2 separate regions of the Homo sapiens genome follow, and region 2 is linked to region 1. Evidence: fine-mapped expression QTL. Tissue or cell type: whole blood. Region 1 holds a variant in brackets; the other region holds the start of a gene. All regions are shown on one strand. Distances are between the middles of the regions. Region 1 holds the start of FIGLA (folliculogenesis specific bHLH transcription factor). Region 2 holds the start of CLEC4F (C-type lectin domain family 4 member F).

Region 1 (15,548 bases):
TTGAACCTGGAGTGGCAGAGGCTGCAGTGAGCCAAGATCATGCCACTGCACTCCAGCCCGGGCAACAGAGCAAGATTCCATCTCAGAAAAAAAAATTCTAGGCTACCTGGTTCATCTGCAATTTTTTTTATATTGTGGCAATCTCCAAAAATTTTTTCAAAATATTTATTGAAAAAAATCCACATATAAGTGGACCATGCTATTCACACTTAGGTTGCTCATGGGTCAATTATACATACAAATGTTTGTATGTATATATATTTTTCTTTGTATGTTTTTCTATTCTTCATTTTAGGGTTTTCCTAGCTTTGTGTCATCAGGAAGCAGTATTAAGTAACATGGCCTACTTTCACTACTCACAATAGCAAAGACTTGGAACCAACCCAAATGTCCATCAATGATAGACTTTATTAAGAAAATGTGGCATGGCCAGGCGCAGTGGCTCACGCCTCAATCCCAGCAGTTTGGGAGGCTGACGCGGGTGGATCACGAGGTCAGGAGATCGAGATCATCCTGGCTAACACGGTTAAACTCCGTCTCTACTAAAAAAAATACAAAAAATTTAGCCGGGCGTGGTGGCGGGCGCCTGTAGTCCCAGCTACTCAGGAGGCTGAGGCAGGAGAATGGCGTGAACCCGGGAGGCGGAGCTTGCAATGAGCCGAGATCGCGCCACTGCACTCCAGCCTGGGCGACAGAGTGAGAACGCTTTTGAAAAAAAAAAAGAAAATGTGGCACATATATACCATGGAATACTATACAGCCATAAAAAAGGATAAGTTTATGTCCTTTGCAGGGACATGGATGAAGCTGGAATTCTTCATTCTAAGCAAACTAACCCAAAGACAGAATACCAAACACCGCATGTTCTCACTCATAGATGGGAGTTGAACAATGAGAACACATGGACACAGGGCGGGAACATCACACACCAGGGCCTGTTGGGGGGTGGGGAGCTGGGGGACGGATAGCATTAGGAGAAATACCTAATGTAAATGACAAGTTGATGGGTGCAGCAAACCAACATGGCACATGTATAGCTATGTAACAAAACTGCATGTTGTGCACATGTACCCTAGAACTTAAAGTATAATAAAATATAATAATAATAATAAAAATAACATGGCCTACTTTTTTGGAATTTCCTGAGATTCTCTTTGTGGCCTAGTATATGCTCACTCTTTATAAATGTTCTATAGGTGTATTTATTAGATTAAGCTTATAATTTTCATTATGCAAACATTTTACATTCTCATTTATGTTTTGTCTACTCAATCAATCAGTTTCTCTGAGAGGATTTTTTAAAACTCTCTCATGATGTTTATCATTTTGTCACATTTTCCTCTTATTTTTAAGAGCCTTTATTTATATACCTATATATTATATATATATTATATATATATTTCAGTTACATTTTTTTCCAAGCCGAACTGTATCCAGCTTTATTAAAGATACTTTCCATAAACAATCATGGTATTTCAGGCAGGACATGGAAGACAATTGTTAACAGTATGCAACAACTTTCAAACTCCCTTCTTCAGTGGACTGCCAAAAATCAGAAAGCCACTATAAAACCCAATGAAGTCTTCATCTGATGCTCTGAACAGGGGAAGTTTAGAGTGAGGGTTGACATTTCACATTTAGCATGTTGTTTAACAACTTTTCACGAGGTGACCCTGACTTTCAGGAAGTGAAATGAAAATGGCAGAATGTATCTGAAGATCCACAGTCTAGGAACGGAACCACTGCTCTTTAGACAGGTGCCATCTCAGTGGCACCACTGGAAAGTCCAGATTGCCTGACACACTGGTAACCAATGACTGGGGATGAGGTCCCAACAGATGTCTGGGCTTAAGAGAGTTAAGTCTATGCTGAAAGATAGAAAGGGAGAAGAGGACATAAAAATGAATTGCTTTTTCCAAACACAAAGCTTTAGTGCCAAGGTACTCATGTGTATCAAAGTCAGGGAATCCCTCCTCCCGGGAGCCAAGAGGAAGTCTCCCAAAACTAGAAGGGAAAGGTGTTTTCCTCACATCACTCCAGCTTTGGAGACATTCTATTAGTGACATATAGCCCTTCCCCCAGAAAAAACAACGAAGTGTTCTGTGTGCTAACAACATAATAGCTTTAAAAAACAAAGTAAAACAAAATTCTGCATTTTTATAAAACTTGATAAAAAATAGTATTTCAAACTGTACAGTCACCAGAAGTACACAGTTATCAAAAATGCACACACTTCACTTGGCCTCTCCATCACCTTCAGCTTCCCTGGCCTGGTCTGTTATGGCATCTCCTTTTTCTGCAGGGTAATTCCCCTCCTTGCCAGCATCAGCTTTTCCCTTTTTCCCTTTAGGTACCTTCTCTCCCTTCTTTGCAGGGGCCTTTTTAGGCTTGGGCTCTGGCTTTGGAGGAGCAGGTTTAGCAGACAACCTTGTGGATCTTCTCTGAGGTGTGTCCACCTTGGCTTTATCTCCTTTAACATCCCCTTCGGTCTTCCTCTTGGGCAAGGTGGCGGCGGTGACAGCAGTGGGACTTAGATGCTGGGCCCGGGATGCAGCGGCGCACAGGCTTTGATCGGTCGGGGGGTCATTCTCGCCTCTTCTTCTTCCATTTCAGTTACTTTGTTTAATGTCTAAAGATTCATAACTAACTCCACCCAACCAACCCCCACTGTTTTTTGAGACTGGGTCTTGCTCTGTCAACCAGGTTGGAGTGCAGTGGTGAGATCTTGACTCACTGCAGCCTTGACCTCTCAGTCTAGGTGATCCTCCCACCTCAGCCTCCCAAGTTGCTAGGACCACAGGCGCATGCCACCACACCTGGCTAATTTTATTTATTTTTTGTAGAGATGAGGTCTCACCATGTTGCCTAGGCTGGTCTCAAACTCCTGGGCTCAAGCAATCCTCTTGCCTTGGCCTCCCAAAATGCTGGGATTACAGGCATGAGTCCCTGTGCCTGGCCCAAGATCCAATAACTATTGTTTTGTTGTTGTTGTTTTGTTTGTTTGTTTGTTTGTTTTTGAGATGGAGTCTTTCTCTGTCACCCAGGCTGGAGTGCAGTGGTATGATCTCGGCTCACTGCAATCTCTGCCTCCTGGGTTCAAGCGATTCTCCTGCCTCAGCCTCCTGAATAGCTGGGATTACAGGCATGTACTATGCCTGGCTAATTTTTGCATTTTTAGTAGAGACAAGGTTTCTCCATGTTGGCCAGGCTGGTCTCGAACTCCTGACCTCAAGTGAGCTGCACACCTCAGCCTCCCAAAGTGCAGGGATTACAAGCCCAGCCACCAAGATCAATTAACTATGAAATCTACTTCGGGAATTTTACTTTATATCAATAATTATTCCTTCAAGGAATGTTCATTGCACCTCTACTATGTACCAAGCACTCTTCTAGATTTTAGGGGTTCAACAGTGAACCAAACAGACAAAAATCCCAGCCCTCATGAGGCTAGCATTCTAGCAGGGAGCAGAGGTAGTTAGTACATTCAGCCCCTTCTCACAACCCCAGGAAGGAGTCCTGTGGAGAGGTGATGGTGTGGAGCAGCAAGGAGCTGTCATAATCAATCCAGCCAACCTTGCCCTGCCGTCTAAAGGTAACAAAGAAGTGGCTGGACTGGGGCGGGTAAACAGGAAGGACTCCCTCCTGCCAACTCCTCAGGGTCAATTCTCATGTCCCCGCTGCCCCCTTCTCTCCTTCAGGGGAGGTTCCGAAAGCTGCAGTTTCCTCAAGAGAGAGGCAGAGGAATGAAGTTCTCCATAGACTGACTGGAACCATCTGGGGAGACAGAGTGCAGTTGTCGGGTGACCTGGGGGACGTGGCCGGCTTGTCTCACTGGAGGGCCTGCCCGCCCTGCCTCCACTGTGGGAACTCTGTACAGCTGCCACTCTCTGTGACCTTGGGTTGTTTTGGTGGCACTAGCAGGCTGTGACAGACAACTGCCACCACACAGGGTATGATGTTGACACTCAGGTGCCCACAGCCTTCTCTCCCAGAGATTTTTAGTCTTTCCGGGCATGAGGCTCACCGTGGAGTCTGGGGTCCCACTCATTGTGCTTTAGGGGACAGCCTGACTCTAGCATAAGTAGGAGAAGCTATAGACATTACAGTTGTTACGAAATGACTCTCAGACCTGGTTTTCCAGGGGCAGGGAGAAGTTTCTCACATTCTGGAGGAAGATGTAACAGCATTTTGAGGATGAGGGATGTCACTGGTTTAGAGGAAAATCTACACTTGCTTAGTCAGTAATTTTGATGTCTACCAACAAATGCCCAGCCCTTTTCATGCACTAGATACACACAGCATTCACTGCTCTGACACATGAATTTGGGCCTGGGACCAACCCTTCCTGTGTGCCTCCACCATGCCTCTCAGAAGGACCCTCTCTTTTGTGTATTGTTCTCACTTATAAGAGCCAGTTATAAATTTTTCCACCTTGCCAGCCAGCAATTCCTGCTGCAGCTTAGGCAACCAACTCCAAGGACCTCCCCATCCCCAGTGAGAGTCCCAGGCCCCAATGAGAGTCACGGAAGAGTAAGGATGCCTTGGCTTCTCTTGGGAGGCACGAGGGTCCATGTGCTTTAGGATAGCCAGAGGGTCCATGCCATCTGGCTTCTTCCTGCAGGACAGGGCCCCAAGCAGCAGGCTGTCCATAGTGCAACCCTGCCTCACTCCCCAAAGCAGCTGCATCTCACTGCCTCTTGAATCTCCCCAAAGCCCTGCTTTTGTTGCAATCTTTGACTTCTTAGACCTGACAAGCATTTTCCACTCTCCACCATACAGGTGCCAGGACTGGGATCCCAGGCCCTCTTCAAGATGACCCCAATGAGCTTTTCATCACACTTCTGCCATGGGGTCACTGGAACTGAGCCAAGCCCCTTAGTGTCTCCTCAACCAGCTCTGATTGTAGCTTCTGCATTGGTGCTCTGACCACCCCTTAGCCTGGGTCACTTAGGATTTGTCTGTATGATAACCACATTTCTGGACTTTCTATTTGGTTCATAAATCATGCTACCATTAACTAACAACATGGTGGGGGTTATGGGAGGCAGGAGAGCTTGGAGGTTATAGACCCAGGCCCTGAGGCCAAACACTCTGGGTCCGATCCCATTTTCATTCCTTTCTAGCTGGGAAAGCTGGTTCATTGACTTTCATGTTTCAGTTTCCTCTTCTGTGAAATGGAAGTAACTACAGTACCTCCTTCGTGGGGGTGCTGTGACAATTAGGAAAGTCAATGCATAGGACGAATTTAGGATAGTGCATGGGACACGGATCCCACTGTGCAAGCATTAGTCGTGATTGTTTTGCTGATGGCCTACTTCACTCCTCACTTCACTTCTGAGGAAGGCTCTATTAGAACCCTCACTTTACAAATGGGGAGATAAAGCCCAGAGAGTTTGGATGATGATGTGGTTTGTCTCTGTGTCTCCACCCAAATCTCATCTTGAATTGTATTCCCATAATTCCCACCTGTTGTGGGAGGGACCCGGTGGGAGATAATTTGCATCATACTGTTCTCTTGGTGGTGAATAAGTCTCATGAGATCTGATGGTTTTATCAGAGGTTTCCACTTTTGCATCTCTTCATTTTCTCTTGCTGCTGCCATGTAAGAAATGCCTTTCATCTCCCACCATGATTCTGAGGCCTCCCCAGCCATGTGGAACTGTAAGTTCAATGAAACCTCTTTTACTTCCCAGTCCTGGGTGCGTCTTTATCAGCAGCATGAAAAGGGACTAACATAGTAAATTGGTACCAGGAGTGAGGTGTTGCTGAAAAGATACCTGAAAATGTGGAAGCGACTTTGTAACTAGCTAACAGGCAGAGATTGGAACAGCTTTGAGGGCTCAGAAGAAGACAGGAAAATGTGGGAAAGTTTCCAACTTCCTAGAGACTTGTTGAATGGCTTTGACAAAAATACTGATAATGATATAGACAATGAAATCCAGGCTGAGATGGTCTCAGATGGAGATGAGGAACTTCTTGGGAACTGGAGCAAAGGTGACTCTTTTTATGTTTTAGCAAAGAGACTACTGGTATTTTGCCCCTGCCCTAGAAATTTGTGGAACTTGGAACTTGAGAGAGATGATTTAGGGTATCTGGTGGAAGACATTTCTAAGCAGCAAGGCATTCAAGAGGTGACTTGGATGCTGCTAAAGGCATTCAGTTTTGAAAGGGAAGCAGAGCATAAAAGTTTGGAAAATTTGCAGCCTGACAATGCAATAGAAGAGAAAATCCCATTTCCTGAGGAGAAATTTGAGCTAGCTGCAGATATTTTCATGAGTAATGAGGAGCCAAATGTTAATCCCCAAGACAATGGGGAAAGTGTCACCAGGGCATGTCAGAGACCTTTGTGGCAGCCTCTCCCATTACAGACCCAGAGATCTAGCAGGAAAAAATGGTTTTTTGGGCAGGGCCCTGAGTACCTGTACTGTATGCAGCCTAGGGACTTGGTGCCCTGCGTCTCAGCTGCTCCAGCCATGGCTGAAAGAGGCCAACATAGAGCTTTGCAGTGGCTTCAGAGGGTGCAAGCCCCAAGCCTTGGCAGTTTCCACGTGGTGTTGAGCCTGCAGGTGCACAGAAGTCAAGAATTGAGGTTTGGGAACCTCTGCCTAGATTTCAGAAGATGTATGGACGCCTGGATGCCCAGGCAGAAGTTTGCTGCAGAGGCAGGGAACTCATGGAGAACCACCGCTAGGGCAGTGCAGAAGGGAAATGTGGGGTTGGAGCTCCCACGCAGTCCCTACTGGAGTACCACCTAGTGGAGCTGTGAGAAGAGGGCCACCGTCCTCCAGACCCCAGAATGGTAGATCCACCTACACCTTGCACTGTGTGCCTGGAAAAGCTGCAGACATTCAATGCCAGACTGTGAAAGCAGCCAGGAAGGAGGCTGTACCCTGCAAAGCCACAGGGGTGGAGCTGCCCAAGATTATGGGAACCCACCTCTTGCATCAGCATGACCTAGATGTGAGACCTGGAGTCAAAGGAGATAATTTTGGAGCTTTAAAATTTGACTGCCCTGCTGGATTTTGGACTTGCATGGGCCCTGTAACCCCTTTGTTTTGGCCAATTTCTCCCATTTGGAATGGCTGTGTTTACCCAATATCTGTACCCCCATTGTATCTAGGAAGTAACTAGCTTGCTTTTGATTTTGCAGGCTCATAGGCAGAAGGGACTTGCCTTGTCTCAAATGAGACTTTGGACTGTGGACTTTTGGGTTAATGCTGAAATGAGTTAAGACTTTGGGGGACTGTTGGGAAGGCATGATTGGTTTTGAAATGTGAGAACATGAGATTTGGAGGGGCCAGGGATGGAATGATATGGTTTGGCTCTGTGTCCCCACCCAAATCTCATCTTGAATTGTACTCCCATAATTCCCACGTGTTGCGGGGGGGACCCAGTGAGAGATCATTTGAATTTTGGGGTGGTTTCCCCATACTGTTCATGTAGTAGTGAATAAGTCTCACGAGACCTGATGGTTTTATCAGGGGTTTCTGCTTTTGCATTTCCTCATTTCTCTTGCCACTGCCATGTAAGAAGTGCCTTTGGTCTCCCACCATGATTCTGAGGCCTCCCCAGCCATGTGGAACTGTAAATACAATTAAACCTCTTTTTCTTCCCAGTCTCAGTTATGTCTTTATCAGCAGTGTGAAAATGGATGAATACAGATGACTTGCCTGAAGGTCATACAAACGCCCTGCTGCAGAAGGTCCCCCTTGACAGCCATGGCCCTCTGCCTGTAGCCCCCACTCTCTGCTTCATTTTCTCAGCTCTTCTGCAAGGCCACTGCAGCTCACATGGCTGTAAGCTTCCCAGGGCCTCTTCACGAGGCTGTAGGTCTCTCTTTATGTCTTGTCAGGGCTCTGAAGCACAGCAGCACCAATGAGAAGCTCTTGAGCTAAGGGGCTCTGGGAAGGGAAGGTCTTTGGCCAGTTTCCTGGAGACAAAGCCCAAGGGCAGAGTCTCTGTGCCTGTTCCTTTTCTCTGTTCTCTGTTCTCTCTCTGAGAGGCACTTTTGAACTTCTTTTAACCCTGCTGGTGGTGTAGACAATACACTAATCCCAGCTCATGTTTGGTGGGGGTGGAGGAAGAGAAGGCCCCCAAGGGAAGTGAAATAATCCACATAGCAAGCAGGCAGGACCTGTGTGCCGGGACCCAAGCAGCTGGAAATGTGAGGCTGTGCTGAGTGTTCTTGGGTTGGAGGCCACTCAGACTTGGAGGAAAGAGAGCTGCAGTGAACGTGAATGTGACAAACGTGCAGTGAATGTGACAAAGCTGAGTTCTAGACTTGGCTCTGCTACTGACCGGCAGCGTGACCTTGCCCGGTCATTTAACTCTATCAATTTTCTCATGTGCACAATGGGAGGAAAGTCTAATGCCCAGGATACAGTGGGATAAAATTATAATGCTGTGTCAAAAATAATATATCATCATAACAATGTGAATTTATGTGAATATGAACAACATGAAATTGCCAAATCGATTTGGATGGGAATTCTGGGCAATATAGGCTTGACTATAGTCTTTGGTCCCTGTTTAAAATGCATTCTTGGTCTTCCTTTACTAAAGCTGCTTTTTTAGCAGCTCTTTCTTGTCTTGCCTGAGCTAATGGGAGAAAGGTGGCATGTGTGAGCCACAATGTGGTCACCGTGATAAGGGATGCTGAGTGCCCAGGAGGGCAGACCCAGCAGGGGAGAGTTCTTCTCAGCTAGGCCTAGGGTAACTAACGGGCAAAGACTGACAAGGTGGACCGGCTGGAGATGGAGCGAGGGCAATTTCTCTGTGTCTCGTAGGAGAAGATAATGTGGATTGGCTGCCTCCACCTCATGCCTTTTGGCACTGCAGAAGCTTCATTTTTCAGAATTAGGACCCAGTGTTCTGAATGCCAATTAAGATGATTTAATTAGAAACTGTTGTAGGACATTGAGAGGGTGAAAGTGAGGCAGAGCTCACCTTCCTGTCCTTTTGTATATTTTCTGTGGAAAGCAAGGAGATGGGGCCAGGCGTTTCTCCACCACCGTGTCCTAGGCCCCTTCCCCACATTTGTGGGGTTGATGGCAGTGGCAGTGGTGTGTTCTCAAACTCAGAGCTCCTCCTGCCTCTCCAGCCCTCTGATGGTTGTGTAAGCAGCAGGATCCTGAATGAAATCCTTTGGCATCTGCTTAGAATAGCTAGAAGAGCTTCTGAGCCTACACTGAGCCTTGCTGGGGGGAATGGCCTGAGGTCTTTGCTGCTGCAAGGCAGGCTCCCTGCAGAGGCCTCTAAGGGGACAGCTCAGGAATGACACCCCACCTACCTTATCTCTCTCAATCCCTTCTGGAAGGGGTGGGGTGGGGTGATGAGGCACCTGGGGTGGGAGTTCCTGAAAGGAAGGGATGGCTTGTTAAAGAGGTACTGCTTAAAAAAAAAAAAACAACAACCCTGAAACCCTGGGGGTTTTTTTTCACTCTGCTTAACATGATTACCTCTTCCTGGCTTTAGGAATATCATTCATAGGCCCCTTTGCACAAGTAAAACAGGCTAGAGTATTGAAAGCCTAAGGGAAAAACAAACAAAAATGTCCCCCTACCCAAAGTCAGAAAAATTCAAATGCTCCAAATCCAGGGGTCCAAACTGAGATTCTGCTTCCCTGGCCTGCTGGAAGCCTCTGCCTGGAGTGTGTCCTGATCACTGCTAAGGTTCCCCCTCTTTCCTTCCTGTCCCTGCCCTCCCCTTCCAAGGCAGGATTCGGGAGGAGTGTTGTTTAATTGTCCCCAGGTAGACAGAGCAGTCTTGACCTTTCCTTAGCCGCCCACAGGCATGGAGGGAAACAGCTTTTCTAGCAAGAGAAGTGACAATAATGGTGACATTTGTTAGCATTCAATATGTGCCAGCCTTAAGTCATCATCTCACCCAGCCTTATGTCATCAGGCAAAGGTGAAGAGTTCCTTCTTACTGCATGCCTTCTAACTCTCCCTAAGTGAAAAAATAGCTTTCTTAATTTTAAATGAAAAAAAAGTGTTATTTAAAGCCAGTATTAGGGGAATTTTCTCTTTAAAATGGCATTTGACCAAGAGTCTTCTCATTTCCCTCTAAAATACATAATAACACACAGAAAAAGGCAAAACTGACAGCAGCAGCAGAAACCAAGACAGGTAGTAACTCAATTGCCAGAGAAATTTTACCGACTACCTGTAATAGTCATGGAGCTGAGGTCAGAAACATGATTTGAAGCAAGCACATGTCTTGCTTTTTGAAACAGAGCAACAATAAGAAATTGGTAAAAGGTCCTTTAGCCTTATCCTGCTTTTTGCACCATTGACTCAGAGACCTAGTGTCTGTATCAATCAGCAAACTAGACAGGGATCCCCTTTCTTCAAGGCATTGTGTTTTGAGATAGCTGTGTGTCCCCATCCTTACTCCAAGGGTGGACTCCATTCGGCTGGCATTGTACTGGACTACAAGGTATTTAGGACTCAGGAAACAAAAAAGCAGTAAAGAGAGGATGTTATCAGTTGCATCCCAAGAGGTCTGGTCCCACAAAGGAAGAGCAATAAGCAGGAATAGCAAACACAAGGAGAGCAATGCATTCTGGGACCTAAAGATGTTCACATACTTCAGGCAGCCTGGAACAGGAAACTCCCTACTAGACCCATAGAGCAGTATAGGATGAATGCAACTGAGCCAGTACTGTGTATATCAACCATAGTATATCACCAGCATCTAAGAGGACACTTATCCTTCAATTTTCCATGGCAGAGAGATCTTCCTACTTTCTATGTAAACTTAGGTAAGCTTTTTCATTCATCTATTTATTTATTCACAAATATATATTATAGGGTCAAGCAGCTATGGCAAAACGTGAAAGATTTTACCTGAATAAGCAGGTTCTTATTTTACCCATGTCAAAGTAGCTTTTTTACTTCATTGCAAGCATCATTCATTCATTTGCCTTCTCACTCATTCAACAAATGTTTATTGCATGTCTACTGTGTGCCAAGCCAGCACTCCGTAGGTGCTGGAGATGCTGTGGCCAGTGATCCTCCTTCAAGGAGCCAAAATAAGAGAAATAAATGATCTCGCAGAGGCTTATGGGCACTACTGGAGCACAGAAGAGGGGCACTAGGACAGAGACTCCTGTTGTCAACCAAATGCGTTCTCCCCATTGAACAGAATTGTAGCCAGGCACATGGCTCCCCAGTCAGACTACATTCCCCCACCCTTTCTTGCATCCGTGTGTAGCCATGTGTGAATTCCTGCCAATGGCATGTGAGTTGAATCCTATGTGCCACCTCTGGTCAGGCCTTAAGATCTCTTCCGTGCCCTTCTCCTGGAACCCAGATACGGTGGCTACCGAGCCTCAGCCATGCCAATGATGACAATGCTGTAGGGGAGTTGACCCTAAGGGATGGAAGAACAATAATTTGGAAGGAACCTAAGTCCCCAAGTGACCTTGAGGAGCAGAGCTGACCTAAACCTTTCACACTGTTAGAGGATAGTGAAACTTTTTGTTCATTAGGCCATTGTATTATTGGGTGTATGGCAAGGTATCAGCCCTAAGTCACCATCAGGTGTAACACTTTAGCTTAAATCAGTTCACATGATTGCTTTCCCTGAGAACAATGACATAACGTATGAATCTAACAGACCAGAGGCCAGAAAGTTAAGAGTTGGAGTTTATGGAAGAACACAGGTATGAAGGAATCAAATCTGGTGTGCTCACAATGGGTTCCTAATGTACACCACCTTGTTCACTGCAAGGTTTGGCAATAAAATAGAATAATATCAATGATGTCCTTTATGATGCTTTCAAG[G/A]AAAGTTAAGTAAATGGGTAAGCTATCTCCATTTTAAGCTTTTTCCCACACTTTTGGCCCTTGTTGCTTTCCATCTGCCTGCCAGCAGACAACACCAAATGAACTTAGCGCAAACAAAGTATTTTCCTACTTAAAAATATATTTTAAATTACAGAAGTGGCCCGTGTTTATTGTGAAATAAGCTATATAGAGGATGTGATGTGCAGTCACACTTCCCCATTCCCAGGCCATGCTCAAGGAACCTCAGTCAAACATTTGGTGTGTCCCCTTCTTTCCTTTGACCTTTCCTGGGAGGCAATGTCAGAGTGGGAGCTGAAGAAGGGTGGGGCCTAAGAGGTGGCTGATGTGGTTAGAAAATTGGTTAGGTACAGGGATTGAGCAAATAAGTAATTACACTGAGGATAATGTGAGTCAAGCTTCTCATTGTTGGAGAAGGGAGTTACAAAAGCAGATATGGGGTGAGGAGTTACAAAAAAGGAAAGCAGAGAAACTAGAGGGAACCTGAGGTGTTGGGTTGGAGTTGGAGGTATTAGTGTGAACTCATGGTTTTAAATATATATGTACTTAGATACACAGATATAGTTATTATATGCATTATATTATATTAGAGGATATTATATGCATTATTATAATATAATACATGCATGTGTACTTACCTACATATGTGTCATATCTGCAAAAAGGGCTTAGAAGCAATGACATCCCAAAAGGAATGAGCAAGCAAGCACACAGATCTTGGTTTCTAAATCCTACCTTCCACTAAAAGAAGAATAGACTGATCCCTGGGCTGGGGCTGGGAAAATTCAAGAAGAGCCTTCCTGGGACAAGTGAGAAAGTGCACAAAGAATGAGGGAGTCATATGAAAAGGACAGAGGAGCCAGCTTAGAGGGCCTCCCATAAGCCAAATCTGAGACAATTTGAGCATTAACATAATGATGTAAATAAATTATATCCTGTGACTAAAATAGAAATTCATGAGCCCATGCTGACATAAATACAAAATGAATAAATAAATGGGAAGAAGGGAAAGCTCTTTTTCACAGTAGAATGCCAATCATTTGCCTCTAATTGTAGTGCTGGTTGATTCAGGTAGGAGTCAACAATGGATGAGAAGGAGTATCTCCTCACAAAATTTTTTTTTATTTTTATTTTTTGAGACGGAGTCTTGCTCTGTTGCCCAGGCTGGAGTGCAGTGGCACAGATCTAGGCTCACTGCAAGCTCCGCCTTCCGGGTTCACACCATTCTCCTGCCTCAGCCTCCTGAGTAGCTGGGACTACAGGCACCCGCCACCGCGCCCGTCTAATTTTTTAATATTTTTTAATAGAGACAGGGTTTCACCATGTTAGCCAGGATGGTCTCAATCTCCTGACCTCGTGATCCGCCCGCCTCAGCCTCCCAAAGTGCTGGGATTACAGGCATGAGCCACCGTGCCTGGCCCACAAAATATTTATCAATTTATGGTGAAAAAACCTGACACCACCACCTTGACCAGGCGATTAAGGTTAACATCACCAGTGGTGGGGCAGATCAACCTCATGTACTTCCTGATGTGATGCACTGAGAAGAGCCCAGCATCATTTATATGGAGCCCCTCCATGAAGGCATGGCTGGGGTCTGGACATGAGCAAATAGTGGACAACCCCAGGTCGAGGGACATACTACAGAATGAAAGGCCCCTACTCTTTTAAACTGTCAAGGGCATGAAGACAGGACAAGATGGAGGAAATGGTCCAGAATGAAGGAGAGTAGAAATATGACAACAGAATAAAACTTGTACTCCTGGATTGGATTCCAACCAGAAGAGAAAAAGACATTGTTGAGACAGCTGGTGGTACTTTGATGGGGTCCATGGATTGTATGGTAGCACAGTACCAATGCTTACTTCCTAGTTTGAGTGGTTGTGTTGCGGTTATGTGGAAGAGAGGCCTTGTTTAGGGGGAATACCCACTGGAGTATTTAGAGGTGATATGACAGCATGTCTGCAACTTAAAAACTTTAAAAAAAGAATAGATCAATGGATGCAGCTAGACGTCATTATTGTAAGGGAACTAACACAGAAACAGAAAACCAAACATTGCCTGTTCTCACTTTATAAGTGTGAGCTAAACATTGAATACACAGGGACACAAAGATGGAAACAATAGACACTGGGGTCTGCTTGAGGGGGAAGTAAGAGGGGGGCGTGGGTTGGAAGGATACCTATTGGGTACTAGGCTCACTACTTACGCCACGGGATCATTCGTACACCAAACCTCAGCAACACACAATTTACCCACTTAACAAACCTGCACATATACCCCTGAACCTGAAACAAAAGCGTAGAAAAAATATTTTCTCAGACCAAAGAAAAAAAAATGTATTTCTATGCTTGGAAGGAATGATTTTACAGAGGGCTTCCAGAAACATGTCTGATTTTCAGGTGCAAGATCAGAATGTTCCAGTTATATTGATAACCTCCAGAGAAACAAACTCTCATGAGTAATCTACTCAAAACAGAAGATGTAGTTAATTATTTCTAGAGTACTAAATTGTACTCTACTATTAAACAAGTTTGGGATCGCTATTTTCCAGCACATTTTCTGAAGTAACAACTGTGTTTGGCTGTGTTGACAATAAAGGTCTGTGTGGAAAAGGGGGAAAATGAATAAAGCGATGTATCCCCCCACTCGCGAAAAAAGAAAATAGTTCAAATAGAATGGAAAAAGAATAATGAAAATGAGAATATTCACAGCGAGAAAGAGGGCAACGGAGCAAACGTGAAAACTTAGCAAGTAGAGAGCGTGGCGAAGGGGGTACAGGAGCTCTTAGAAACTCTTCTTGCCATTTTCCCCGCAACTTTTATTTCAAAACGAATTCTTAAAAAAGTTTTGTGGATATCCATCACATTTTTCTGTATACACATAGCCAGAAGCTCAGGCCCCAAGACAGATTGATTAAATGGGAATTTGGGGGACTGGAACCGTGGCATGTGGATTGAGAAAAACACCACTACCACGCTCCCGGCGGTTCCAGGTGTGCAGCCGGGGCTGCGCTCCAGCGCTCCCGAGTCACACCTGTGCGGCTTATTCAACGCGATGCCTGGACGCAGCCTCCAGAGAGGAGGCCGGGATTGGAATACGCAGCCGGGGAATGGTTGCAGGTGGTCCAGCTCCCGCCCCCGCCCCGCCCCCGCCCGGGCCTCGTGCGGCCCCGGGTGCGCAGGTGAAAGCCCGGCCTCAGCGGCCTCGGCCCTGCCATGGACCCCGCGCCCGGCGTCCTAGATCCCCGCGCCGCGCCGCCCGCGCTCCTGGGCACCCCGCAAGCCGAGGTGCTGGAGGACGTGTTGCGGGAGCAGTTCGGGCCGCTGCCCCAGCTGGCCGCTGTCTGCCGGCTCAAGCGGCTGCCCTCGGGCGGCTACTCGTCCACTGAAAACCTCCAGTTGGTGCTGGAGCGGCGGCGTGTGGCCAACGCCAAGGAGCGTGAGCGGGTGAGGGATCCCTAGGGTCGACGTCCGTTCCCCCCTTCCCTGCTCTACCACCAAACACCTGGTCAACACCCGGGGGTCCGCTCACCGCCCACCCCCGCTCGAGGCGACTTCGAGCTCCCGAGGCCTCCCACGCCCCCAGCTTGTCAGGAGAATGGCAGTGGCCTCCTTCTTCTGCACCTCCGTGCAGCTGCTCGTTGGCGGCCGCTGCGGTGGCCGCCTCGCCCGCTAACCCTCCAGGATTTGTGCAGGACCCGGGTCTGGGAGGGGACAGAGGAGGGGCCCTGACAACTTCAAA
Region 2 (15,548 bases), 22 kb before region 1:
TGCTCGTGAACATGTACTATATTTTATTTTTCTGTTTTTATGCTTTATTGATCTATCTATCTATTGAATCACTTCATTTTCTCTTTGTCATTCTCTCTCGCTTTCTCTTTCTCTCTCTCCTCTTTTTCTCATATTGTATGAGCTATGCTTTCTTTGCTTTAATTTTCCCAGTGCTTTGGAAGATAAGCCATTATTTGGGTGGGGTGTGTGTGTGTGTGCGCGCACACACGTGTGTAGTTGCCTAGCACTTCCCCTTTTTCTTACAAAGCACCCTGGCTTCTGGGATTATTGGCATTATTCCTGGCATTGTTGCCCTGGTTGGGGCTGGGCCCTGGGCATGGGGGCTGCCATTGGCTCCCTTGGTGACCCCACCTGGCCAGGGCTCCAGGTAGCCCCCAGCAGGGCAATGCGTTGCCTCCCTCACAGATTTCAGGCCCTCCTTTCTCTCTGCCTCTCTGTTCCCATCCCAGACCTCCAAGAACCTCCCCTCCTATCTGTCCCAAGGCAACTTTCTTTTTTTTTTCAGGTCTCAGAATGAATCTCTGTTTTTGGGGGAGAAAACACAGGCTACCCAATTTATGATAAACTCAGTGTGTTTTCAAAAAGGAAACTTTTATTGTTCTGTGGGAGCCTAAAGCGAAAGGATTTCGTAAGGCTTCCTGAGGAAGAGGCACATAAGCTGAGCCTTGAGAGATGAGCAGAATTTAGGCAGAGTGGGATGGGGACACAGACGAGGAAAGAGAGAGAAAACAGAAAATGCAGAGAAGGAGTGTGACAGGCCTGAGGCACCAAGAGAACTCCAGTCTAGCTGGAGTGTGGTGTGAGGTGAAGCAGGGGACAGGCAGCTGTTGGAGGGCCTTCAAAGCCAGAGGAGGGGTTTTGGATTTTATGTGAAGGACAAGGAGGAAACATTGAAGTGTTTTAGGCAGATGAGTGACATCTGTTTTTTACTTAGTGTTGAAGAAGCGTGACAAATGATTTGTTACATTTGAAAGCTTAAATGCTTCCAGGAATAACAAGATCTACAGACATGCAATAGAATTATGTCACTGGAAAACATTTGTCACACTCTTGTGGTTCTTCCTTTATCCTGAACAGCTTCTTGGTTTAGGTATCTTCCTGTATTTTGAGTTCACCTTTTAAAGTTAGAAGCAGAACTAGCACTTACAGCCTTCCTTGCAGAAAAGTGCAGGCATGAGGCTAGATGCTTTGGGAGGCCCTTTGGGAGCCAAGGCAGGAGGATCACTTGAGGCCAGGAGTTGAAGATCTGCTTGGTCAACCCAGTGGGACCCCGTCTCCACAAAAAATACAAAAAAAATTAGCTGGGTGTGGTAGTGCGGACTTGTAATCCTAGCTCTTGGGAGGCTGAGGTGGGAGGATTGCTTGGGCTCAAGAGATTGAGGCTGCAGTGAGCTGTGATCACACCACTGCATTCTAGCCTGGGCTACAGAGCAAGACCCTGTTTTAATTTAATTTAATTTAATTTAATTATTTATTTATTTTTAAAGTGCAGTCATGTGACCCAGGGACCACCGGTCAGATTCAACCATGTGAGACCTTTGATTTGTCCTGGTGTTTTTTCAGAGCTCAGACTAGATTTAGTGCTGCCGTTATTGGAGCATTCCTCCTGCCAGCATAGACTCTAAAGCTTGACTCTGGTCTTCTGAGATTCCATAATTACTACTTATGTCTTTTTTTAATTTTGATTTTTTTGAGACAGGGCCTCCCTTTGCCACTCAGGTTGGAGTACAGTGGCACAATCACAGCTCACTGCAACCTTGAACTCCTGGGTTTAACCAATCCTCCTGCCTTAGCCTCCTGAGTACCTGGAACCTCAGGTGTGCACCACCATGCCCAGCTAATTTTTTTTTAATTTTAGTAGAGATGAGGTCTTGCTATGTTGCCCAGGCTGGCTTCAAACTCCTGAGCTCAGGTGATCCTCCTGCCTCAGCTTCCCAAAGTGCTTAGATTACAGGTGTGAGTTGCCATACCCAGCCATCCCTAATATCTTTTAAATACCTTTTTAGGCTGGGCTCAGTGGCTCATGCCTGTGTTCACAGAGCACAGAACTCAAGGAGAATCACTTGATCACAAGAGTTTGAGGCCAGCCTGGGCAACATAGGGAGACCCTGTCTCTAAAAAAAAAATACAAAACTTAGCCGTGTGTGGTGGCGTGTGCCTGTAGTCCCAGCAAATCAAGAGTCTGAGGTGGGAGAATTGCTTGAACCTGGGAGGTCAAGGCTGCAGTGAGCTGTAATCACGCCACTGTACTCCAGCCTGGGTGATAGAGTGAGACCCTGTCTCAAAAATTTTTTTTAAAAACTTTATATTATAGAATAGTTTCAGCTTTACAGAAAAATTGTGAAGATAATACAGAGAGTTTCTATATACCCACCCTTTCCCATTTCCCCGATTGTTAACATCTTATATTAGTATGGTACATTTGTCACAATTAATGAGCCAATATTTAACTGAAGTCCATACTTTATTCAGATTTCGTTGGTTTTCCCCTAACATCCTTTTTCTCTCCTAGGATCCCATCCAGAATACCACGTTACATTTAGCCATCATGTCTCCTTGGGATCCTCTTGGCTGTGACATTTTCTCAGTCTTTCCTTGTTTTTGAAGACTTTGACAGTTTTGAGGAGCCCACTGGTCAGGTACTTTGTAGATTGTCCCTTAAATGGAATTTGTCTGGTGTTTTTCTCATGATTACATTGGGGTACTGAGTTTCAGGAGGAAGACCATGGAGATAAAGGGCCATTCTCATCACATCCTATGAAGGGTACATACCATCAATAGAATTCATTACTGTTGGCGTTGACCTTGATCTCCAGGCTGGGGTAGTGTTTGCCAAGTTTATTGACTCCAGAATTACTCTTTTCTCCCTTTTCCTGTACTGAACTTTTTGGAAGGAAGTCACTATATGCAGTTCACACTGAAAGAGTAGGAAGTTACACTCTACTTTTCTCAGAATGGGATATTTACATAAAATATTTGGACATTTTCTGCCCTAGAGACTTATCTATTTGTTTACTTACTCAGACATTCATTTATGTCAGTATGGACTCACAGATATTTCTCTTACACTTTGGGTTATAATCCAATACTATTTTATTTGTTTTTTTGTTTTGTTTTTGCTCAAATTGCTCTGGCTTTGGCCATTGGGAGCTCCTTCATTGGTTCCTGTGTCATTTTGACATACTTCCCTCAGTTTTTTTTTTTTTTTTTTTTTTTTGGTAACTAAGCATCTCCTTACTTTCTGGTACTACAAGATGCTCCAGGCTCATCTTGAGTATTTCCTGCCCCAGTTCTAGAGTCAGCCATTTCTCTAATGAGCCCTGGTTTCCTTTTTTTGGAGAATGGTGTTAGAAATCAAAACCTGGGGGCTGTGTGGCTGTTGCTATTTGAACATCATTGCCTCTCCCAGCTGAGAGAGCTAAGTAATATTTGTGTGTACATCTAATTTTTTTTGAAAAGATCATTATGCTTGCACCATGGTGACAGGACTTGAGAGGGGGTAAGAGGAGAGGCAGGGAGAACAGTTAGGAGACGAACGGAATAAAAGCCAGGTGGTTTGCATTCAGGCCTGTAAATGTGTTGAATTGTTGTTGCTGTATTTTGTAGGGTGTAAAATCAGGACACTTTGTACTGCTGAATACAAGTGCTCACATCATGTCAAGAAGCTGTCCCTACTATTAAATAAAATGTCCTGGATTAAAAAACATAAAGAAGAATCCGCCTCTCTCCCTCTCCTGGCTCTGGCTCCCTCTGGTTTGGCTTTAGTCCCACCAAGTAGACTCTTTCTTTCTTTCTTTCTTTCTTTTTTTTTTTTTGGAGTCTTGCTCTGTCACCCAGGCTGGAGTGCAGTGGCACAATCTCGGCTCACTGCCACCTCCGCCTCCCAGGTTCAAATGATTCTCCTGTCTCAGCCTCCCGAGTAGCTGGGATTACAGTCACCTGCCACCATGCCCAGTTAGTTTTTGTATTTTTAATAGAGACAAGGGTTTCATCATGTTGGCCAGACTGGTCTTGAACTCTTGGCCTCAAGTGATCCACCTGCCTCGGCCTCACAAAGTGCTGGTATTGCAGGCATGAGCCACCGTGCCTGGCCAGTTCTTGTATTAATGCCCATTTGTTTTTGTCTGGCCAGAGAACAGAAAGCCTCTCAGTGAAGACATAGCAACCCCCTGGTTTTTCTGCCCTGCTGGTAGATGGTGTTCCTGTGGGAAATAGAAGAGCTAGGGCCCGGAGGGTGGGTGGGGAGGCCAGGGAAGAACTATGCCCCTCTCCTGGCCCAGACTCTGACCTTCCAGTTGGGCAAGGGATCCGTAGAGTTCTGCCTTCGAGGTTCCCTCAGCTCTCAGGCCTCAGGAGGAAATAGGTCCTGAGTAGGTCCAGCCTGGGCCCTTCCTGTGTATGGGGAAACAGAAACCAAGACAAGCCCTTTCTTTTCAGCCACCAGCCCTGGGTGTCTGATGGGCCTCTAGGGAGGCACCTCCAGCAGCTTCCATCCCATTCTATGTGGCGGTGAAGGAGTCTGGCAGACACCACTGGGATCTCAGGCAGCGCTGTTGATAGTCCAGAAATAGGTGCCTTCACCCTTCATTCCTGCTGTGCCCTCCTCTCTAAGGTCAGTTTTCAACAAACAGGAGGTAAAAGGCAGCAAATGGTGGCTCTGCACTCTACACATTGGGCCCCTAACACTGCACAGTTCAACACACACACACACACACACAAACACACACACCCCCACCATCATGAACTGGGTGTGGGCAACCGCTCCCTTCCTGTCTGCAGATCCCCTACCCACGGGGCGACTTGCTTGCCGGGTTGACATCAGCCACGCATGGCACAGGCTCCTCCTGGGCCAAAGCTGTTCTCCTGGCCCGGCCTCAGAGGAGGCACGTTCCGTGTGGCTTCTCCACCTTTGTGGTTGGTCTGCAGTGTTGTTAGTTGGCAGCTGGGGACCTATAAGAGGCTGACCCCAGGATCTGTGCAAAAGACATGAGAATGGGACATAGGAACAGAGGGTGAAAGTAGCAAAGAAACAACACAACATGGATGGAACAAGCCATTTGCAAGGTTGTGAGTTTGTTTAAGAGTTGCTATGATGGTGTAATATGTAATTAGACTTTCCAAAGTGAAAGAAAATGTGATTTATTTCAAAAAGATTGTGACCGTTTGAAGTAATGGAGACAAGAAGGAACCAAAGAACAGGAATCTGCTGGTAACCCCAGCACTGGCTTTTAGAGGGGTTCCTTGACCAGCCATGGGAATATTGGTTCTGTTCAGCTGGTAACCCCTGTGGCAGGGACAGGGACATCACGTTTGCACAGCTCCATGGCACTGTCCACTGGGATGCCTCATGCCTTCTCTTCTAATGCTAGGCCCACCCAGCAGCAGGAACCCCTGAAGCAGTATCTGTTCCTCCTGGAAGGGATAGGGCTCATTGAAAGCCACACATTGGCCCCAGCCTGCTCCATCAGATTCTTTGGAGTTAGTCTTGAGAACCTGGTCACCTCAGGAGGCATGGATCCAATCAGCTAAAGTTGGGGCCTGCTTGGTATTTTCTGACACCACTTCTGACACCAAATGTGTGCTTTTTCCTGACACCAGCCGATTCTCTGACACCCGCTGGGCATCCAACAATTCAAACAGATTCTAACACTAACTTCCAGAGTTAGCACAGATCTCACAGGGTAAGGCCTCAGTCCCACAAGACTGCCCCCCTTCAGATGCTAGCTACAAGTGAGGTAGTGACCCCACTTCTGCCTGGTCAACTACAAATTTGGGGGTTCTGGCTAGGCAAGGTGGCTCATGCCTGTAGTCCCAGCACTTTGGGAGGCTGAGGTGGGAGGATCACTTGAAGCCAGGAGTTCCAGACCAGCCTGGGGTATAAAAAGAGATCCCATCTCTACAAAAAAATAAAAATAAAAAATTAGCCAGGTATGTTGGCACACACCTGTAGTCCCAGTTATGCTGGGGTTATGCTGGATGTGACAGAGGCTGGGATGTTGGGGCTGAGAACTGAGGATCACTTGTGTCCAGGAGTTCAAGGCTGCATTGACTTATGATCGTACCACTGCACTCCAGCCTGAGTGACAGAGGGAGACCCTGTCTCAAACAAAAAATTAGGGGGTTTCTGCAACAACCTCTCAGTTTTCATAATTCACTAGAACAATTCACAGAACTCAGAAAAACACTGTACTTCCTATTCTTTTATTGTAAAGGACAAAAACAGCCTGATGAAGAGGTACACAGGGCAAGGCCCAGTGGGGTCCCAAGTGCAGGAGACTCTGTCTCTGTGGAGTCAGGGCATGACACCCTCCTGGCATGTGGATCACCAATCCCTAAGCTCCTTGAATCTCATTTTTTAAGAGTCGTTATAGCCCAGACCCCAGGCCATCTCCCATACCTGGAGGTCTGGGAGTAGGGAATGGGAGTGGGTGGCTGAAAGTCCCAGTCTTCCAAAGTCTAATCCCATGTTTGGTCTTTCTGGGACCAGCCTCCAGCCTGAAATTATCTAAGGGTCCACCCTGTGTCACCTCATTAGCATAAACCCAAGTGTAGTCCTAAGGGGCTTATTATGAATAACAAAAAACACTCCTGTCACCCAGGAAACTCTAAGCGTTTTAGGAGTTCTGTGTCAGGAACTGAGATGAAGACCAGATATATTTTTTACAGAGTTGTCCCTTGGTATCTGCAGGGGATTTGTTTCAGGACTCCCATGGGTACCAAAGTCCACAGATGCTCAAGTCCCTTGTACAAAATCATGTAGTATTTTTATATAACCTCCGCACATCCTCCTGTATACTATAATTCAGTTGTGAGTCCCCAAGTGGCTGGTCACCCCGCTTCCTCCTTTGACCTGCAAATATCGGCCGCACTGACCTGGCCCCTCTTTTACCTGACTCCTTTTACTTAAGAGGTTCTGAGGCTAGAATTAAAGGTCAGCCATAGTCATAAGGATGTTTTCTGTGCAAAGCTGAGACCCCCTTCCTAGGTGCCAGTCCCAGCCCCCAGAGAAGAAGAGGTGTGTTTGGGGTTATGCTGGATGCGGCAGAGGCTGGGATGATGGGGCTGAGAACTGACGGGAAGGTGCTAATGGGAAGAGGAAGAAAATAGGGCAGATGGGTATCTGGGAGCCTCTAGGGGAGGGGCCCACTGGGGCGGGTTTCTGCAGAGTCAGGCAGGGAGGGAGGAAGAGCTGGGAGGGTGGTCAGGAGCATATAAGTGTGGGTGTCTCAGCTTTGCTTCCACTGCCATTGGTCCACGGGACGGCCCTTCCAGGAGCCAGTGGCTGGGAGCAGTGCTGGAGGATCAAGGAAGCAGAGATGGACGGTGAGGCAGTCCGCTTCTGCACAGATAACCAGTGTGTCTCCCTGCACCCCCAAGGTGAGAAAACTGGGGCCCCAGCTCTTGCCCAGTGAGGGAGTAGCCTGCCTGTCCTTTGGCCCTCTGCCATAAGGCAGCTTATTGCTGTCTTATTGCTCTCCCCAGACCCTTGTCCTTGGGGATGCAGACCTGGCAAGAGAAAGGGGATGAACTTTGAATTCAGATGGTCCTGGCTTGGAATCCCGGCTCTGCACACTGAGCTGGTCCTGTGAGGCCTCCCTCCCTTCCTTTCTTCTTTCATTCAAACTACACTTTTGTTGCTCTGTGCTCTGTGCCAGGTTCTGTGCCCTGTGCACCACCAAAGCCTCCTTGAGATTTGGAGATCGGTGGTCTCGGTCTCAGAGCTCCTCAGCTCTGTGTTGCTACCATATCCACATCTAGCTCTGGTGAACAGCCCAAAGTGTTTTGTCTTCCTTCTCCATAACCACCTGCATGATAAGCATGGCAGGAGTTATCATCCCCATTAGACAACCCAGGAAACAGAATCAGAGAGGCTGTGTCTCAGCCTGCACAGCACCCTCTTACCTTGCACAGCACCCTCTCACCTTGGACACTGCCTTCTCCCCTGCAGAGGTGGACTCTGTGGCAATGGCTCCTGCAGCCCCCAAGATACCGAGGCTCGTTCAGGCTACCCCGGCATTTATGGCTGTGACCTTGGTCTTCTCTCTTGTGACTCTCTTTGTAGTGGGTAAGCCCCCAGGTGACCCAAATCTCACTAACTTTCTCTCCTTTCAGCACAAAGTCCCCAGGGGCCCCAGATGCACACTCTCTGGGCCTCTCTGCTCCCAGAAAGATCATTCCACCTCCAGCTCCAGGCCCAAGCCACAGCTTCCCTGGGAACAGATAAAGGCCACTGTCCAAGGGGGAGCCTCCCAAGAACTGAGGTTCATGAGGGAAACCCTGGGAGGGTCTTTGCTGCTATCTCCCCGGTTCTGGAACTCTACCTCTGTGTGGGACAGCGTATCCTCCCAGGCTCAGGGCTGGGGATTTGCTGACCTGGAAAAATGGAATGTCTCAGTTCAACAGCAGACAAGACCTGTTCCGAAGCCTGTGCAAGCCGTAATTCTGGGAGACAACATTACTGGGCATTTACCTTTTGAACCCAACAGTGAGTAGCCACAGTGGGGGTGGGGTGCAGAGGGAACTGGGGCCTTCAGATGCTCAGACCCTAGGATGAGCTTCTCTCCTGGTACCCTCTGACCACTGAATGGGCTCCACCATCCTCACAGAAAGAGATAATTTTTTAAAAACACAGTTTTATTGAGGTCTAATGGTGTATATATTTAAAGCATACAATCTGTTAAGTTTTGACATATGTGTGTGCCCCTGAAACCATCACCACAATCATCATCACATAGTCATCCTCCTCACCCCAAAGTTTCCTTGTGGCTCTTTGTAATTCCTTCCTCTCCCTTCCTCTCCTCATCCCTGGGCAGCCACAGATCTACTTGCTGTAACTATAGATTAGTTTGCTTTTTCTAGAGTTTTATAGATAAGAGATCATAGAGTATGTACTCTTTGTTCTTTGCTAGTCATGTGATTTGCAAATATTTTTCTCTCAGTCTGTGACTTGTCTTGTCATTCTCCTAACAAGATTTTAATTTTGATAGTCTAATTTATCATTTTATTTCTGTTATGGATTATTCTCATGATCTCGTATGTGAGAAATCTGCCTAATCCAAGGCTACAAAGATGTTCTCCTTTGTTTCTGGAAATTGTACAGTTTTTAGTTTTAGTTTTTGTTTTTGTTTTTTGACGGAGTCTCGCTCTGTCACCCAGGCTGGAGTGCAGTGGCGTGATCTCGGCTCACTGCAAGCTCTGCCTCCCAGGTTCATGCCATTCTCCTGCCTCAGCCTCTGGAGTAGCTAGGACTACAGGCGCCCGCCACCACGCCTGGCTAATTTTTTGTATTTTTAGTAGAGACGGAGTTTCACCGTGTTAGCCAGGATGGTCTCGATCCCCTGACCTCGTGATCTGCCCACCTCAGCCTCCCAAAGTGCTGGGATTACAGGCGTGAGCCACCATGCCCAGCCCGGTTTTTAGTTTTACATTTAGGTCTCTGCCTCATTTGAGTTAATTATTGTATAATGGTGTGAAATTGATTGTTCCAGCACCATTTGTTGAAAAAGTTATCTTTCTCCGTGAATTGCCTTTGCACCTTTGTTGAAATTCGATTGTCCATATGTGTGGGGGTCTACTTCCGTATTCTCCATTCTGTCGCATTGATTTGTTTGTCTATCTTTACAAAGCAGAATCTTTGACTGAACTCCCAGTACCTTGAAAGGTCCCCTCTCTTACCTTAGCACAGTAACTGAGGTCTCACACATCTACATAGGCAGTGCATGAGAAATAGTACATGGATGCTCCAGAAAGGGTCCCTGCCATCTTGGGTTTTTCTCCCTATTCCTGAGGGGAGACTGGAATCAGAAGGGGATCATGGATGTGTGAGATTAGGTCCTAGTTCATGAGGTGAACAAAGGATGCTAGCAGGACCAGAGGTAGATGCATGTGAGGTTGGTGGGAAAGACCTTGCAGATTAAAGGGGCTGTGGGGTCTCCTTCAACGACCCCAGCGCAAGGCCTTTTACTCAGGTTTCCTGTATCCTCAAACTGTTCTGTAGGGACCCTTGCCCTATGTAACACTGGGGGTGCTGGCTCTTTAAAAGGCCATCTCAGCTGAGGTCCAGTGTTAGTTACCTGGAGGGCATGGCATGCCTCTATCATAGCCCTGTTGATTGAACAGGGTACTTCCTCCCAGCACACCTATTTTGTTTTGTTTCTGTTTCTTTCCTTTGTGTTTTCTTCTCCATGGAATTTGCCATCATAAAACTTATGTTTGTGGTGGTTTTTATCAAGTAACAATGGTGAATCAAGAGGCTCTATGCTTGGTGTACAAATATAATGTAGGACTAACCACAGGCTTTATTCATACCTATTTTCTTTCCCATAATGACCCATCTGTGGTGAAATTCCAGTAAAATTAAACTTCAACAGCTCTAAATGATAAAATCAGTTACTTTCAAGTTGAGCAATTATAACGACAAAATAATCCAAGCCTTACCAGCATGACTCCTGGTGGCAGCTGGCTTACAGCAGGCAAGCATTTCAATCCTTCTGACCCCTTCATTTGTGTGTAACAGTGAATTAGATCTTTGTTTCTTGGCCCACATTCTCAGGTGGACCGTCCCCAGGGTCTGGGTGGCTGTGTGACCAGGAGGGTGCTTGGGGGAGCACTGAGGGCTGTGCAGTACCCATTTCCCTTGGAAATGTTAGAAACACTCTGGGTGGCCCATAAAATGCTACCCTACATAATGGGCCTCTTTGGCTGCCTTCTTCACTTCCTCCCTCCAGATCATCACCACTTTGGCAGGGAGGCAGAAATGCGAGAGCTTATCCAGACATTTAAAGGCCACATGGAGAATTCCAGTGCCTGGGTAGTAGAAATCCAGATGTTGAAGTGCAGAGTGGACAATGTCAATTCGCAGCTCCAGGTGCTCGGTGATCATCTGGGAAACACCAATGCTGACATCCAGATGGTAAAAGGAGTTCTAAAGGATGCCACTACATTGAGTTTGCAGACACAGATGTTAAGGAGTTCCCTGGAGGGAACCAATGCTGAGATCCAGAGGCTCAAGGAAGACCTTGAAAAGGCAGATGCTTTAACTTTCCAGACGCTGAATTTCTTAAAAAGCAGTTTAGAAAACACCAGCATTGAGCTCCACGTGCTAAGCAGAGGCTTAGAAAATGCAAACTCTGAAATTCAGATGTTGAATGCCAGTTTGGAAACGGCAAATACCCAGGCTCAGTTAGCCAATAGCAGTTTAAAGAACGCTAATGCTGAGATCTATGTTTTGAGAGGCCATCTAGATAGTGTCAATGACTTGAGGACCCAGAACCAGGTTTTAAGAAATAGTTTGGAAGGAGCCAATGCTGAGATCCAGGGACTAAAGGAAAATTTGCAGAACACAAATGCTTTAAACTCCCAGACCCAGGCCTTTATAAAAAGCAGTTTTGACAACACTAGTGCTGAGATCCAGTTCTTAAGAGGTCATTTGGAAAGAGCTGGTGATGAAATTCACGTGTTAAAAAGGGATTTGAAAATGGTCACAGCCCAGACCCAAAAAGCAAATGGCCGTCTGGACCAGACAGATACTCAGATTCAGGTATTCAAGTCAGAGATGGAAAATGTGAATACCTTAAATGCCCAGATTCAGGTCTTAAATGGTCATATGAAAAATGCCAGCAGAGAGATACAGACCCTAAAACAAGGAATGAAGAATGCTTCAGCCTTAACTTCCCAGACCCAGATGTTAGACAGCAATCTGCAGAAGGCCAGTGCCGAGATCCAGAGGTTAAGAGGGGATCTAGAGAACACCAAAGCTCTAACCATGGAAATCCAGCAGGAGCAGAGTCGCCTGAAGACCCTCCATGTGGTCATTACTTCACAGGAACAGCTACAAAGAACCCAAAGTAAGTGGGAGAGGGGAGTCGCGTTTGGGGAGGGCACAGTCTCTTGAGAGGGTAGAGTCTTCCATCTCATCAGCCTCTTTTTTACTGCAACATGCATCTCCTTGACCAAATCCAGGGAAATGGGCCCAAGGAAACTGGGCAGTTGTAGAGATGGTGTGAGGTGGGAAGTTCCTGCTCTCAAGTTGCTTATAACCTGGTCACGGTGACCAAATGAACACGGGAAACCAACTGTAAATGGTGCACGTGTGTGATAAGGACGGCATGGGCTAGTGGGCCACACAGCCTTATTTCTGACTTCCTGATACCCCAAATGGTATGACCTTGAGCCTGTTACTTACCTTCTCTGAGCTACACTTTTCTCATCTGCAAGGGGGAGACAATAATATTTGCATCACAGTGAGGATCCAATGAGTTCACACATGTAAGGCCTTTAACAAAGTACCTAGCATTCATGCCCTCACCCGATGCTTTATTGAGGCCCAGTGGTGTGCTGGGTAAAAAGGTGAATAAGGTGTGATAGGTACCCTTGAGAAGCTTACAGGCTAGTAGTACAGACTTGCATGAAAGACATACAGACAGGTATAAGGCTGATAGGTTAGAAGCAGGTACTGAGAACTGGGGTTGGGGGCAGAACAAAAAGAAGGGAAAAGGAATCTTCTAGGGGGAGGGAAGAGATCTGTGGGGAAAAGATCAAAAGATGCTTTGTGAGAAGATGGCTCTTGAACTTCATCCTGAAGGATGAGTAGGTGTTTGCCAAGCAAATAGGGTTTGCAGGCATGGAGACACAAAATCATGAGATTCTGGAAACTTCAGGCAGTTCTCTTTGACTGGCCTGTGGACAAGAGGGCAGCTGAGAGACAGAAGGGAGTGTTTGGGGCAGCCACTGAAGAAATGGGGGCTAACAAATGAGGGCTTGGTGGGCAGCAGTGACGTTCCACTTTACTGCTTTGCCCGGTTCCTGGTCTGGGGTCAGAGGCCCCACTTCTTCACACATCTCCTAGTGCCCCAATGTCCTTATTCCTCCCAGCTCTCACTGCTGCTTTAGCTGGGCCCAGTGTTTCTCCACTTTGGGGGCACACTGGAATCGCCCAAGGAGCTTTGAAAATACTGATGCCTGGGGACCCACCTCCAGAACTGTGATTTTTTTTTTTTTTTGGTGAGGGTGTCTGGCATCAGTATTCTTTTTTAAATGCCTAGGTGGATCTACTGGCATCTGGGCTGAGAACTATTAGCTTAATTTTTTTTCTTAAAGGACAAAGAACTAGATATCTTAGGCTTTGGGGCTGTACGATCTCTGTTACAACTACTCAACTCTGTTCGTAATTATAAAGCAAAAGAAAAAGACAGTAAACTAATGAGCATGGCTACGCTCATAATAAAATAAATTTTATTAAAAAGACACTGCTGACAGGCTAGAGTTTGCCAATGGTTGGTTTAGATGACTAGTTCTGGGCATCAGAACCCCCAGAGGGCTTGCTGAAGCAGATTGTTAAAACATAATTTTGGATTCAGTAGGGCTATGGTGGTCCTGAAAATTTGCATTTCTACCACGTTGTCAGGTGATGCTGATGGTCTGGGACCACACTTTTCGAACCCCTGATTTATACCCATCTCTTACTGGGACTTTCGCCATTGTGTTATCATTGGTGTTTCTGTCCTCATTAGGAGTACCTTCTTCTGGTTCAGCTTCCACCAGGTTGACGTTTTTCCAGTGCAAATCTGGACATATTACCATCCTTCTCAAAACCTTGCAGTGCTTCCCATTGCTCATAGGGAAAAAAAAATCCAAACTGTTTCACATGGGATGTACCATTTAGTGCTGGTGAACCTGTCCAAATTCATCACTCACCCATCCTTTATGTCCCAAGAATACCAAGTAGCTTGAATAGATCAGGCTGTGCCCGGCTGTTCCTGACCTTTATGCCTTTGTGCTGATCCTTTTCCCTGCCTGGGGTGCTCTCCTTAACATTGAACACCTGGCAAACTCTTCCTCAGTCCCTTAAGACTCAGCTCCAGACGGGGCACAGTGGCTTACGCCTGTAATCCCAGCACTTTGGGAGGCCAAGGCAGGCAGATCACCTGAGATCAGGAGTTTGAGAGCAGCTTGGCCAACATGGCAAAACCCCATCTCTACTAAAAATACAAAAAAAATATCCGGGCATGGTGGCGGGCACCTGTAATCCCAGCTACTCAGGAGGGTAGGCAGGAGAATCGCTTGAACCCGGGAGGTAGAGGTTGCAGTGAGCCAAGATCGCACCATTGCACTCCAGCCTGGGCATCCATAGCAAAACTCTGTCTCAAAAAAAGAAAGAAAGGAAGAAAGAAAGGAAGGAAGAAAAAGAGAGAGAGCGAAAGAAAGAAAGAAAGAAAGAAAGAAAGAAAGAAAGAAAGAAAGAGAAAGAAAGAGAGAGAAAGAAAAAGAAAGAGAAAGAAAGAAAAAAAGAAAGAAAGAAAAAAAGAAAGAAAGAAAGAAAGAAAGAAAAGAAAGAAAGAAAGAAAAAGAAAGAAAGAGAGACTCAGCTCCAGTAACATCTCATCCAGGGTGTCCTTCCTGAGCCCCACCTCCTGCTCAGATGAAACAGACCATACCTTCTTCCGTGACTATTCTACTGTGCATGTGTTTTTTAGTCAATGCATCTTCAACACCTTTTTTCCATCTGTCTCATTTATTAGGCTCTAAGTTCCTTAAGGGCATCAATCATGTCTGATTGATCTTTGTACAGTATGGCAGTGGCTAGCTGGAAGAAGTTAAGGAACGTTGCACAATGCACGTTGAACAAAAGAACAATTTGGTGATTAATTGAGCTTGTGCGGCACCATTTCAAACAGCTGTGGCATAGATGACGCCAAAGAGCAGGCTGTTGTGGCAGGGAGGGAAGAAAGAGCTGACAGAATTGGGGCTTGTGCTCACAGGATGAGCTATAAGAGTTTGAAAAATGGAAGGCCAGGCAGACCAGGTGATGACCAGGTCCCAGGATGGCCATGGGTGTGGCAGTGCAAGTGGATGGAGATGAAGACAAGGTAATGAGTAAGGCTATGGGATACCTGTAAAATCCCCAGGGAAGATGGCAGGAGTTGGGGTGGAGAGGACTGTCAGGTGATAGCAATGAGTTGGGAGAGAGGGCAGGATAGCCAGGAAGCAGGTATCTGGAAAGAGAGAGCTGCCTGAGCCTCCCAGGAGTGCCCAAGCCAGGCGTCTTGAGGGCTGCTTCCTGGAGTGCTGGGTAGTGAGATGGCAGTGCAGCCCCCCAGGCCTTTCTCCTGGAGCACTGCACATCAAGAATTTCATGGGCTTGTGAACCTCAGTGGGCAGGCCCTAGAGAGGTCAGAAAAGTTCCTTCTGGGACTCCTACCAGCAGCTCCTGGTTCTCTTTTCTCCCCAATCTTTGCTCCAGGTCAGCTTCTCCAGATGGTCCTGCAAGGCTGGAAGTTCAATGGTGGAAGCTTATATTATTTTTCTAGTGTCAAGAAGTCTTGGCATGAGGCTGAGCAGTTCTGCGTGTCCCAGGGAGCCCATCTGGCATCTGTGGCCTCCAAGGAGGAGCAGGTCAGAGCTGCGAGCATGGGGTGTTGTTGGTGGAATTGGTGTGGAATAAGGGACTTTGGTGTTTTGGCCTTCCTGCTCTCAGTGGGTATGACGGAGACCTCCATGTCTCCTCTGCCAGGCAGGGAGCAAATATT

The links.
Region 2: CLEC4F starts here. The variant in region 1 is fine-mapped to the expression of CLEC4F in whole blood (TOPMed, PIP above 0.99).

What each region holds. Positions count from the first base shown.
Region 1 is chr2:70,790,113-70,805,660 of GRCh38, reverse strand. It overlaps FIGLA (folliculogenesis specific bHLH transcription factor), which reads left to right and starts at 15,018. Exons shown (of 5, transcript NM_001004311.3): 1 at 15,018-15,253. The coding sequence starts at 15,023. It also overlaps the pseudogene HMGN2P21. RefSeq lists an enhancer at 5,021-5,575. The variant G/A (reference allele first, on the strand shown) is at 11,787.
Region 2 is chr2:70,812,313-70,827,860 of GRCh38, reverse strand. CLEC4F (C-type lectin domain family 4 member F) reads left to right here and starts at 7,262. Exons shown (of 7, transcript NM_173535.3): 1 at 7,262-7,398; 2 at 7,970-8,086; 3 at 8,417-8,506; 4 at 10,749-11,867; 5 at 15,263-15,414. The coding sequence starts at 7,338. It also overlaps a transcript of CD207 not described here.